4 linked regions of the Homo sapiens genome follow. The protein of the gene in region 4 interacts with the protein of the main gene of each other region in a pairwise test. Each region holds a gene or a part of one and is shown on either strand. Other genes may lie near its edges.

What was found. Proteins that work in one complex are often made in the same cells at the same time.
Region 1: the proteins of CHAT (region 4) and CHMP7 interact in binary tests that used the Homo sapiens proteins (3 or more experiments, as listed by UniProt).
Region 2: the proteins of CHAT (region 4) and DPYS interact in binary tests that used the Homo sapiens proteins (3 or more experiments, as listed by UniProt).
Region 3: the proteins of CHAT (region 4) and AGGF1 interact in binary tests that used the Homo sapiens proteins (3 or more experiments, as listed by UniProt).

The regions. Positions count from the first base shown.
Region 1 is NC_000008.11:23,253,637-23,257,136, forward strand, and holds part of CHMP7 (charged multivesicular body protein 7), read left to right. Parts: intron 1-1,610; coding exon 1,611-1,796; intron 1,797-2,823; coding exon 2,824-2,957; intron 2,958-3,500. UniProt on the Homo sapiens protein: ESCRT-III-like protein required to recruit the ESCRT-III complex to the nuclear envelope (NE) during late anaphase. Together with SPAST, the ESCRT-III complex promotes NE sealing and mitotic spindle disassembly during late anaphase.
Region 2 is NC_000008.11:104,443,056-104,446,555, forward strand, and holds part of DPYS (dihydropyrimidinase), read right to left. Parts: intron 1,383-3,500; coding exon 1,193-1,382; intron 1-1,192. UniProt on the Homo sapiens protein: Catalyzes the second step of the reductive pyrimidine degradation, the reversible hydrolytic ring opening of dihydropyrimidines. Can catalyze the ring opening of 5,6-dihydrouracil to N-carbamyl-alanine and of 5,6-dihydrothymine to N-carbamyl-amino isobutyrate.
Region 3 is NC_000005.10:77,063,569-77,065,734, forward strand, and holds the end of AGGF1 (angiogenic factor with G patch and FHA domains 1), read left to right. Parts: 3' UTR 1-1,666; downstream 1,667-2,166. UniProt on the Homo sapiens protein: Promotes angiogenesis and the proliferation of endothelial cells. Able to bind to endothelial cells and promote cell proliferation, suggesting that it may act in an autocrine fashion.
Region 4 is NC_000010.11:49,662,537-49,666,036, forward strand, and holds part of CHAT (choline O-acetyltransferase), read left to right. Parts: intron 1-108; coding exon 109-246; intron 247-2,240; coding exon 2,241-2,510; 3' UTR 2,511-3,500. UniProt on the Homo sapiens protein: Catalyzes the reversible synthesis of acetylcholine (ACh) from acetyl CoA and choline at cholinergic synapses.

The sequences.
Region 1 (3,500 bases), on a different chromosome or scaffold from region 4:
TTACTTTAAACTAGGCTTTTCCTCCTGAATTTTTTCCTATTAATAGCATCACATCCACCAGTCACTCAATCCATAGTGACTTTCCACTAGACTTTTTCTTCCAACCCTATATCCAGTTACCAGTGTTATCTTCTGAATTTTGTTTGTCTCCACCACTCCTCTTTCTATGTTTATTATTCAAATAGCCTGTTGTTCAGACCCACATAATCTCTTGTGTAAATGGTCTCCTTGCCTCTAATCTTAACTCTACAATCCATCGTCTCCCAATTGGCAGTTAGCTTTCTGTTAATCTAGCCATGTCAGTTTCCTTCAGTGACCACCCACCATCTACAGAATAAAGGATCATCATAAGATATTACACTTTCTATAATATAGGATATTACACTTTCTATAATATAGGAGTGCTTCTCCTCTCTCTCCTTTCCCCTCTACATTTGTACACGTGCCGCATTGACCCACCCTTCTATGCTCATGTTCCTCTCTCTTCCCGAGATACCCGTTTCACCTCTTCACCTAGGAACTTGCTCACTCTTCAGAATTCTGCTCAACTTTTTTTTTTTTTCAAGAAATCCTGAATCCCCAGGCAGTCCTTCCCTATATTTTCATAGCATCCCATGGACACCTCAGTCTTTCTTGTTTCTGGTAGTAATTTCCATGTATGAGCGAAATGGTGACATTATTTCTTGGAACTTATATTTCTTACTCTTGTCACTAATCTTATCCCATCTGTTTATTATGTACTTTTCTTTGTTTTTTGTTTTGTTTTGTTCTGTTTGAGACAGAGTTTTGCTCTTGTCGCCCAGGCTGGAGTGCAGTGGCGCGATCTCGGCTCACTGCAACCTCCGCCTCCCAGGTTCAAGTGATTCTCCTGCCTCAACCTCCCAAGTAGCTGGGATTACAGGTGCCCGCCATCACATCCAGCTATTTTTTTTTTTTGTATTTTTAGTAAAGACAGGGTTTTGCCATGTTGGCCAGGCTGGTCTCGAACTCCTGACCTCAGGTGATCCTGACCTCAGGTGATCAGCCTCCCAGAGTGCTGGGATTACAGGCATGAGCTGCCACGCCTGGCCCTTTTCCCTTAAGGCTTTTTACAGAGTCAATAATGTTTGTGTTTGCAGTATAGCCAATTGGCAGGAAAATGGAGAGACTACAATTGGAAGGGAATTAGATGTCATTTCATCCACCCTCTTCAGAGAGTGATACTGAGGACTAGTGAGGCTGTGACTGGCCCAAGGTCACCCAGGCTAGGCTGGAAATCAGGCCTCAGCTCTCGTTCACAGCTGTTCTACCTCACCTCACCTCCTCAGTCTTCCCTTGGGAAACCACAGGCCAGTGAGAGGCAGGAGTGTAAAATCCCCGATGGGCGTGCAGCGCAGAGCTGGCTCCCAGCATCTCATGTGCCTCATTTCATGTGGAGTCACCAAACTTTCCTCCAAGGCTTAAAAACACAGATCCTTCCTCCTTTTTGAAAAGCCGCTACTTTGGGGAGGATGGGGTTGGGATTCCCGGGTGCTTGCCTTGTGTGATCATGGTTTTGAAACTCAGGGTCAGGGTCCCTGCATCCCATGGCAGTGGCCAGGGCCTGTCAGCCAATGTTGCCTTTCCCACAGGAAAAGGCTGAGGAGGTGTATCGTCTGTATCAGAACTCGCCCCTCTCCTCCCACCCCGTGGTGGCCCTGTCAGAGCTCAGCACCCTCTGTGCTAACTCCTGCCCAGATGAGAGGACCTTCTACTTGGTGTTGCTGCAGCTGCAGAAGGAGAAGAGGGTCACAGTCCTCGAGCAGAACGGGGAGAAGGTATGGAGGCTCATCTGTTCATTCACTGACTCAGCAGTGATTGATTAAGTACATAGAGTAGTGAGCCCTTATCTCAGATTTTGGTTTCCAGAGTTTCAGTAACCTGCCGTCAACCACGGTCCAAAAATAATAAGTGGAAAATTCCAAACATTAACAGTTCCATAGATTTCAGTTGTGCACTGTTCTGAGTAGTGTGATGGGACCTCGTAGTATCCCGCCTGTATGCGCATCCCTGCTTTGTCCAGCATCTCCCCGCCTGAGTCACTTAGGAGTCGTCTCAGTGATCAGATTGACTGTCACAGCATTGCAGTGGTTGTGTTCAAGCCACCCTTATTGTACTTTTTTTTTTTTTTTTTGAGATGGAGTCTTGCTCTGTCGCCCAGCAATGGCGCAATCTGAGCTCACTGCAGCCTCCGCCTCCCGGGTTCAAGCGATTCTTCTGCCTCAGCCTCCCAAGTAGCTGGAATTACAGGCATGCGCCACGGCCCCTGGCTAATTTTTGTATTTTTAGTAGAGAAGGGGTTTCACCAGTTAGCCAGGCTGTCTTGAACTCCTGACCTCAAGTGATCTGCCTGCCTCGGCCTCCCAAAGTGCTAGGATTACAGGTGTAAACCACCGTGCCTGGCCTATTATACTTAATAATGGCCCCAAAGCACAAGAGCAGTGGTGCTGGCAGTCCAGATTTACCAAAGAGAAGCGGTCAAGTGCTTCCTTTAAGTGAAAAGGTAAAAGTTCTGGACCAAATAAGGAAGACCAAATATCATTTGCTGAGTTTGCTAGGATCTACAGTAAGAATGAATCTTCTATAGGAAAAATTGTGAAGAAGGAAAAATGTTTACATAGCTATATGTATAGGGTTCAGTATTCTCTGAGGGTTCAGACCTCCACAGGGGATTCCATTCACTGGAACATATCCCCCATGGATAAGGGGGGCCTGCTGTTCTCACATGCCCACCACCAGCGCTCCTGGTTGGGAATTTCTCAGCCTTTGTGGTAGCAGCAGTAGTAATTTCTCCCTGTCCCTCAGATTGTGAAGTTTGCCCGAGGGCCACGTGCCAAGGTCTCTCCAGTCAATGACGTAGATGTTGGGGTGTACCAGCTGATGCAGAGTGAACAGCTTCTCTCACGCAAAGTGGAGTCCTTATCCCAGGAAGCAGAGAGGTAACTTTTAACCCTGAACTGAGCCTCCTCCCCACTGTTGCTGGCCCCCAGAGCCAGCAAAATGTTAGTATATGTGGGCTTTTAAAAAATAGGTGGGTTTTTTTTTTTTTTAGCTAATTACAAAAGTACTCACTGCTCAATGCAGAAATCATGGAAAGCACAGAATATCACAAAAGAGAAAAAAAAATGAGGCCTCTTTTTTTTTTTTTTTTTTTTTGAGACGGAGTCTCGCTCTGTCACCCGGGCTGGAGTGCAGTGGTGCGATCTCGGCTCACTGCAAGCTCCGCCTCCTGGGTTCACGCCATTTTCCTGCGCCAGCCTCCCGAGTAGCTGGTACTACAGCCACCCGCCACCACGCCTGGCGAATTTTTTATATTTCTAGTAGAGATGGGGTTTCACTGTGTTAGCCAGGATGGTCTGAATCTCCTGACCTCGTGATCCGCCCGCCTCTGCCTCCCAAAGTGCTGGGATTACAGGCGTGAGCCACCGTGCCCGGCCTTTTTTTTTTTTTTTTTCCTCAATTGAGACAGGGTCTTGCACTGT
Region 2 (3,500 bases), on a different chromosome or scaffold from region 4:
TTTATAATGAATCTTACAAAAATACAGCCTGTTTTAATAAAAAACAAACAAAAACAGCAAGGTTGAATTATAACACTGTCTCTGATTATCTGCATTCCTAAAATTGAGATGACAGAAGCTACCATGGGACTAAAGTCTTTGAGTAAAATGCACCTTATTTATTTTTCCTCCTTTCTCTACCAGTATTGGCAAAAGAGTGAAATCATTTCTTTGCCCAGTGCTTATCAAAAATAGGAGATTTTCTCTTTCCTTTAAGATGAGTATTTACATACTAGGCTGAACATACTAGGCTGAACCAGAGAACTGAGGCAATTAGGCAGTTTGGGGTAAAAATAACTTAGATTTTAAAATCTTAAAATAACCATCATAAAAATACCATTTGGATAATTGCTTCAATTGCTCCAACATCCAAGTGGCTGTCAGATGAATCAATTCAATTCAAAAGAAATTTATTGAGCATGTACTAGGTGCCTTGCACTGCCCTGATTCAGGTAGTGGGAAGGGTAGTGGAGCTGCCTAAGAGATAGGGAAGCTTCTTCAAAATTAACGAAAGAGGGCTAGGCATGGTGGCTCACACCTGTAATCCCAGCACTTTGGAAGGCTGAGGCGGGTGGATGATTAGAGGTCAGGAGTTTGAGACTAGCCTGGCCAACATGGTGAAACCCCGTCTCTACTAAAAATATAAAATTTAGCTGGGTGTGGTGGTGCTCACCTGTAATTCCAGCTACTCAGGAGGCTGAGGCAGGAGAATCACTTGAACCCAGAAGGCGGAGGTTGCAGTGAGCTGAGATCACACCATTGCACTCCAGCCTGGGCGACAAAGTGAGACTCCATCACAAAACAAACAAACAAAAACCGGAGAGCTTTGCATTTAGCTATCATATTTAAAAGTGGCTGCTAGTGGCATTGAGTGTGGGGGCATGTGGCTAAAGGAAATGTCCTGGGGTCGCAAGGATGGAGAAGAAATAACAAATAAAACATGAAGGTAGAGAGGCAAGGATGAAGATGAACAAAAGTGGTGGAAAACAGACACACATAAGGATAAATGAAACCAGGAGGCTAATAAAAAGGGAGGAAGAAAAGTAGTGGAAATCCACATGCACTTTCTCCTAAACTGAAGCAGAGGCTACAGACGTGGACTTTTCTCTTCAGCTAACACTGAGTTCTAAGTGAGGTTACATTCGAGAATTACCATCTCTCCTTGCATCCGCTATCACCTTAGCTGCAGACTTGCTCATCACATGCACAATGTAGAGAGGACAGTTCACAGCGCTGGCTATGGTGATGGCTCTCAGCGTGGCCTCTGCCTCCACTGCCTCTGGGCGGCACAGCTCGTGGCCCTCAGGGCCTGTTATCCCCAGAGCCAACATCTTCTTTGCTCCCTAAAAAGACAGCAGGAATGTGTATATGTGCAAGGAAGGTTTACTAATGACAGATATCATTATTTTATCATAAATTAAATGCAATGCCAGGCTTTTGATCTGTTAGGTATAGGGGTGTGTGTGTGTCTGTGTGTGTGTGTATATGAACATATTTGTGTAAATATATCTATAACACATATATATATAACATGTATATTTGGTAAAAATAATTTTGATATTCTAATCATATAAGTTAATTTTCCATATGCATATTTTACCATCACTTTTTTTTATTGAAAAGGGGAAAAAGCAAGCACAAGCAACCAAAGCAAAAATGGACAAATGGGATGACATCAAGTTAAAAAGCTTCTGCATAGCAGAGGAAACAATCAACAAAGTGAAGAAACAACCCACAAAATGGGAAAAAATATTTGCAAACTACCCATCTGACAGGGGATTAAGAAGCAGAATATATACAAAACTAAAACAACTCTACAGGAAAAAAAGTTAATAATCTGATTTAAAAATGGGCAAAAGATTTGAATAGAGATTTCTTCAAAGAAGACATACAAATGGCAAACAGGCATATGAAAAGGTGCTCAACATCACTGATCATCAGAGAAATGCACATCAAAACTACACTGAGATATCATCTCACCCCAGTTAAAATGGCTTATATTAAAAAGACAGGCAATAACAATTGCTGGTAAGGATGTGGAGAAAAGGGAACCTATGTACGCTGTTGGTGGGAAGGTAAATTAATAAAACTGCTCTGGAGAATAGTTTGGAAGTTCTTCAAAAGACTAAAAACAGAGCTACCATATGATCCAGCAACCCCACTGCTGGACATATATGCAAAAGAAAGGAAAATCAGTATATCAAAGAGATATACCTGCATTCCCATATTTGTTGCTGCACTGTTCACTACAGCCAAGATCTGGAAGCAACCTAAGTGCCCATCAGCAGATGAATAGATAAAGAAAATGTGTTACATATACACAAGGGAGTACTATTCTGCCATAAAAAAGAATGAGATCCAGTCATTTGCAACAACATGGATGGAACTGGAGGTCATTATGCTAAATGAAATAAGCCAGACACAGAAAGACAAACATTGCATGTTCTCACTTATTTGTGGGATCTAAAAATTAAAACAATTAAACTCATGGAGATACAGAATAGAAGGATGGTTACTAGAGGCTGGGAAGGTTAGTGGGGAGGGATGGCGGTGGGGAGAGGGGGGAAGGTAGGGATGGTTTGTGTGTAAAACAAAAAAAAAGAAAGAATGAATAAGATCTAGTACTTGATAGCACAACAGGGGCACTATAGTCAATAATTGCACCTTTTGGCCGGGCGCGGTGGCTCACGCCTGTAATCCGAGCACTTTGGGAGGCTGAGGTGGGCAGATCACAAGGTCAGGAGATCGAGACCATCCTGGCTAACACGGGGAAACCCTGTCTCTACTAAAAATACAAACAATTAGCCGGGCGTGGTGGCGGGCACCTGTAGTCCCAGCTACTCGGGAGGCTGAGGCAGGAGAATGGTGTGAACCCGGGAGGTGGAGCTGGCAGTGAGCTGAGATCGCACCACTGCACTCCAGCCTAGGCAACAGAGCGGGACTCCATCTCAAAAAATAATAATAATAACAACAAATAAAAAATAATTGCACCATTTAAAATAACTAAAATAATATAATTGGATTGTTTGTAACACAAAGGGTAAATGCTTGAGGGGATGGATACCCAATTTTCCATGATGTGATTCTTATGCATTGCAAGCTTGTATCAAAATATCTCATGCACCTCATAAATATATACACTACTATGTACCCCACAAAAATAAAAAAATTTAAAAAGAAAAGGTGAAAAAGATATGAAGTTATTTCTAATCACATTCTTTGAAAAGCAATATCTATATTTAAGACAATATTGATTCAGACAAACAAAATAAAAATACTGTGGATCCTTGTTGAAGTGACTCACTGTCATACTATGTAATCAGTTTTACTTTTATTACGGAATAATCCTCTTCACTTGCTCCCCAATCCAACCCACTAAATGGTATTGGACCTGTTATCTTTCTTCTTCAAAATGTTATTTCTTCCTTACAAAAAGAGCATGCAGTCCAGACTTAGAGTGG
Region 3 (2,166 bases), on a different chromosome or scaffold from region 4:
AATGACTTAAGTGTACATCTGTTCTTGTCTCCATATATTCATGTAAGATGCACAACAAAAGAAACATCAGAAGTTTATAAAAATAAATCTGACTATATGCATCCTCATTTATTCCCTTTAGAACCTAGGTAAAAAATGTTGCGAAAACATGGGTAGTGGCGCATACATTTTGTTATCCTTGAAATAGCCTAAGTAATGTTATTGAAGAACTAATGAACAGGTAACATATTGTAGAAAATTAGTCTTTCATTGTTTTCTTCTGTGAAGAATCTGTTGCTATGTACTGTATATTCAGCATTTATATTTGGTTTGTTTCATAGCTAATGAGGTATTTAGATATGAACAACTGAATACATATTGAAATAGTGTGCTGGCTTTTGTAGTTTTGATAAAGACCATTGCAGGCAATGGAATTGTGCCAGAGAAATCTGATTTCTAGTACAAAAGGAATACTTAGCCAGGGCCTCAAGCTCAAGATACTTATTGAAAACATCCTCAATTGCAATAAAAACATTATAACATGAAAAAGAGTGATTTTTTGAACCGGTGATTTAAATGTATTGATCTGCTTTGAATTTTCAAGCAGCCAGAATTTTCTAGTTTAAATTGGCAGAGTTATAACAAAGGAGAGCCTCAAATATTAGACAATTGCAGTGCGGCTTTCTGGGCACAGGTGTCACTGCTCTGCCACCTATCACTATTCTTTTTCTGTTCAGTTTTTCTCTCAGGTGTTTGCTGGGAAATTAACACTGGAACTGACCCTTTTCTGGCAGTGAATGTAAGCTCTAGCTCCCCCATCTACTATAAAGAAATGTCTTCGAGATGTAGAAATAAGGAATATTCTGAAAATAAAAATTATACAGTAGTAAAGATAATTCAGAAAGAAAAAGCTACCTGTTAGAATTTCCAGTCTAAATGGCACAGGGTAGTTACGGAGAAAAGGGGATGGAGAAGGAGAAACTATGACTAAAGATGAGAGGTATGAACGAGTTGTCAGGTTCCTATGGGCTTAAGCTAGGACAATCAGGCCCTAAACTCCAAATTTGGATAAAATATCTCTTTGCATTCTTCTTGGCCACCTGCATAGTCTGACACATACGTATGTACAGTTAGACTTGCAGGCTGCAGGAGTGCCCTGCATTGTTTTCTTTTAATTAGAAATAAAAAGTATTAGTCTAAATGTGGTTCTGGTGCTGGTGCCCTGTATATATGTAACAATATAGGACCCCTCCAAATAGGTTTTGCTTCTGGTGAATCTTGGTCATTGGGTTAGTATATGACTGTCTATAATATTTTCCATTTGTATTATTATATTGGGGAAAACATTTTTTATCATTTTCTATTAAGAAAATGGAAAACTTAAATATGGTGTTAAAAATGGAAATATATGTGATATTTGCATTATTAAACCCCTTTGCAGATCTAAAGTCTCAGGGTTCCACTATTAGTGGTTAAAGTACTGAATAATGTCTGGGTCTATTTCCATCTGTAAAATAAGAATATTTGTCTCACGTGTCTGTCATGAATAGCAAATGAGAAAATGTATATAAAAGCACTTTGTAAATTGTAAAAGTAGTACAGATGTGAGCTTCTATTTGTTTAGAAGCATAAATGTGAATTATATACAGTTTGAATTTTGCATAAATTTTTTGTGTCTAATTTTAAATATTTGTTTAATCACACTACACATTTTCTGAGTAGCGTTTAAGTATGTATTTTAAGTGGAGCTGCAAGTTCTGAATTTTAAGAAATCTAACATCTAATATTTTTGCCAGAACATAAGCTGGCAAAGTTGAGAACAGAAGAAACTTTCAACATTAGAGTAAAATAGAAATTTTTTCCAGTATTAAATAGAGGAAGCACCCTTATCCTCAAAAAGAGGAACTTTTTTCTGCTTTTGAAACAAGTGTTACTTCTGATGTGTCATTTTTATCCTGCATTTATAGAACGTAATGGTTTACGCAAATCAAAAACCTTCTGACTTTCCATAGAATATTTTTAATTTTTTATGATTTTTATTTATTTATTTTTTTGAGACAGAATCTTGCTCTGTTGCCCAGACTAGAATGCAGTGGTGCAATCTCAGCTCACTGCAACCTCAACCTCCTGGGTTCAAGCGATTTTCGTGCCTCAGCCTCCCAAGTAGCTGGATTACAGGTGCATGCC
Region 4 (3,500 bases):
AGCCGTGGCTGCTGGAGTCACCAGCAGTCCTGTAGACTACAGAGCAGGGAACAAGGAGGTGCAGGAGGCCCACTTCTCATCTCCTGTTCTTTGTCCCCAACTACACAGGCCATAACAGGGATGGCCATTGACAACCACCTGCTGGCACTGCGGGAGCTGGCCCGGGCCATGTGCAAGGAGCTGCCCGAGATGTTCATGGATGAAACCTACCTGATGAGCAACCGGTTTGTCCTCTCCACTAGCCAGGTACGGCCCCGTGCAGCTATCGCCCAAGAGTAGTGTAGTCAGTAAGCTTTCTAAAGAGCAGTGACAACAAGCCCACTAGCTGGAATCAGGCAAATCCTGCCTCTGCTTTTTCTGAACTATGTGATCTTCAGCAAAATGATCTGAATGTTCATTAGAAGATGGTTTACTGACCAGGCTTGGTGGCTTACAACTATAATCCCAACACCTTGGGAGGCTGAGGCAGGAGGATTGCTCCAGCCCAGGAGTTTGAGACCAGCCTGGGCAACATGGGGAGACCTCATCTCCCTATTTTTAAAAATTAGCTGGGCATGGTGGTGCGTGCCTGAAGTCCCAGCTACTAAAGAGGCTGAAATAAGAGGATTGCTTGAGCTGGGGAGGTGGAGATTGCAGTGAGCCCTGATTGCACCACTGCATTCCAGCCCAGGTGACAGAGTGAGACCCTGTCTCAAAAAAAGAAAAAAGGAAGAAGAAGGTTTCCCATCTCCTAAATGGGAGTAATCAGCAGACCCTACTTAGCCGAGGTGGAGACAGTACAGGAACATACCCATTCTGGTGCCCTAACCATTACACCTTACTACCTTTCAATCTATTGCCGCGGTTTCCACGGGCTCTGATGCCCAGCAGGTCTGCAGTGAAGTCTTGGCTTGGCCAGATACAATTATGTAGGGAGAAAGCCCAGCCCAGGGCCTGGCATGGACAGGGCCCTCTAAATAGGTCACAGATATTATTATAAAGGGCCACGCAACCAACAGCAGAACATTCGTGGCCAGCCCAACATCTAACCAGTGCCTCAGCGTGTCCTGTATGAGAGCCACTGCCACAAAGACAGAATGCAATCCATTAGAGAGAGGTCGTGGTTTAGGAGGGGAAATGCCCCACAGCCATCAATTTACTAAAATGCCACCTCATCTGCGAAAGGCTGGATGGGCAGTACTGGAGTTGATAAGCTGTGTTTGAGGACAGAAGCCCACTCAGTAATGGGATGTTGTCATTATGGCAGTGAGCATGCAGACGTGAATAAACGAGGACAGAACACAGCACCATAAATTTCTCAGGAAATCATCCATGGGCAAAAAGTGCTTTGGAATGGCTTTATGGCCTTCGGCTATTGCACGGCAAATTTATCTGACAATGTGGTGACTCTATTAGCAAGACTAATGGTTTGTTCTGCCCCATTAAAACAGCCAGTGTCACTTCCAAAGGCCTCAGCACACAGCACCAGAAACCTGTAGGTTTAAAACAAACCAGGCCCTGCACCTGCCCAAGAATCCTTTCTATTTTTTTTCCCAAGGACCAGCTAATAAAATTAATCTGGGGTGTGGGAGTTTTGTTGTTTTCCAACTGGAAAGCAGCATTTATGGCTTGAATGCTTTCAGAAACATACTTTCTTGGTTTGTGATCTGGATTACAAAATCTCAGCACTCTGATTCAAAACATACTAGGTGCATAAGTAAAACTGATGGCAATCTTTGAAACACCCAACTCTGGGTAATTGTGCATGGCCAGGCTGCAGGGAGAAATCAGAGAAGCCAGGCAATACTGACAGTAATTAAGGATCTGGGGGAAATCGACACAGAGGATGGGCCAGATTTCCTCCAGTTCATAAATTCCTCCCTCCGGAAAGCATCTAACTATGGGGTGCCACCAGGGGACCATTTAGTAAATTACCTGATTGCCTCCGTGCCTCAAATGGCCCCCAGGTGAAGTGGAGACTCAGCCCAAGACCTAGCACCAGGTCACTCCGGGAGCTTCCAACTCCACAAGTAGAGCAGATTGCACACCAGGGAGTGGGCTTGGGGCCCCTCATCCTCTGATATCATGCAGTTAGATGGGTCTGTTTTTATGACTCTGGCTGTGTCCATCCATGCTAAAGCAATCACTTGATTTGGTTAATTCAGTCAAACCCCCAGGTGGAAAACAGAGAAGCCAAGCCCAGTCGAGGCTGGCGGGCTGCATTCCAGAACAAGCAGCTCCTGACCTGTCCTCTCCTCCAGGTGCCCACAACCACGGAGATGTTCTGCTGCTATGGTCCTGTGGTCCCAAATGGGTATGGTGCCTGCTACAACCCCCAGCCAGAGACCATCCTTTTCTGCATCTCTAGCTTTCACAGCTGCAAAGAGACTTCTTCTAGCAAGTTTGCAAAAGCTGTGGAAGAAAGCCTCATTGACATGAGAGACCTCTGCAGTCTGCTGCCGCCTACTGAGAGCAAGCCATTGGCAACAAAGGAAAAAGCCACGAGGCCCAGCCAGGGACACCAACCTTGACTCCTGCCACTAGGTTTCACCTCCCAAACCCAGCCTCTAGAACAGCCAGACCCTGCAGATCCCCACTCCCGTCCCTTACCCCAGCTTTCCACAGCTCCCTGTCCTCAGGGTCCAACTCACAGACCATACAGAGACATCACACAGAGCCGGAGTGTTAGGAGGAAAGGGTCCCCTCTTCATGCATGGGAATCATCATTTTCAAGGTGGCTTTGGGCCTGCACACTGGGAAATGGGACCTGCCTGGCTCAGAGGCAGCCTGGATGCACTGGGGAACCACACTAAGGACTCCTTCTGTGGTCCTTGGAAGCTTAGTGTTCATGTCTCCTTCCCTAGCAGGACCTAGTATGTCCAGGTGATGCTTCTGCCCAAGGAAAGGATGAGTCACTCTATTACATGCAACGTACCTAATGAGTTAGGAAGGAAGAGGCTAACTCCAGGTCATTACCTCTTTTCTTTTTTGGGGGAGAGGAGGCTGTGTTTTGAGATTCAGAGCATTCTTATCGTGGCATTCCCAGTGTCTCCACTGAGCCGTACAGTCCTACAAGCACCCACTCCTCCCACACACACCACAGAGCCCAAGTCCATTTAAAATATAGTGACTTGGGCCCACAAACACATTTCTGCTTTCGTGCCCAGGGGCAGCCTTCTGTTGAGCTCAGAAAATTGTGTCCAGCTATTCTGAAAGGAAAAAAAAATTTATCTGTGACTGCCCTGGAGTTGCTGCCACTCTCTGCTTAGCAGGCGGCATCAGGGCCAGTCCAAGATGAGTAAACTGCACAGCCCCAAGCAGATGGTGCCTGGTGCCGGTGGGTTTGCAGAGGACCTGGCCCCTTCCCGGGGTCCTGCCATTTGCATTTTTTCTGCATCTTTTCCCCTCTCCTCCCCTCCTACATGCTCCAGTAGGTGAAGAGAGATGGTTACTTTGGGTTTTTCCATTATCTGTTTTGTTTTAAGACAGAGATTTTTAAGAAAACCACCCTGACATTAATT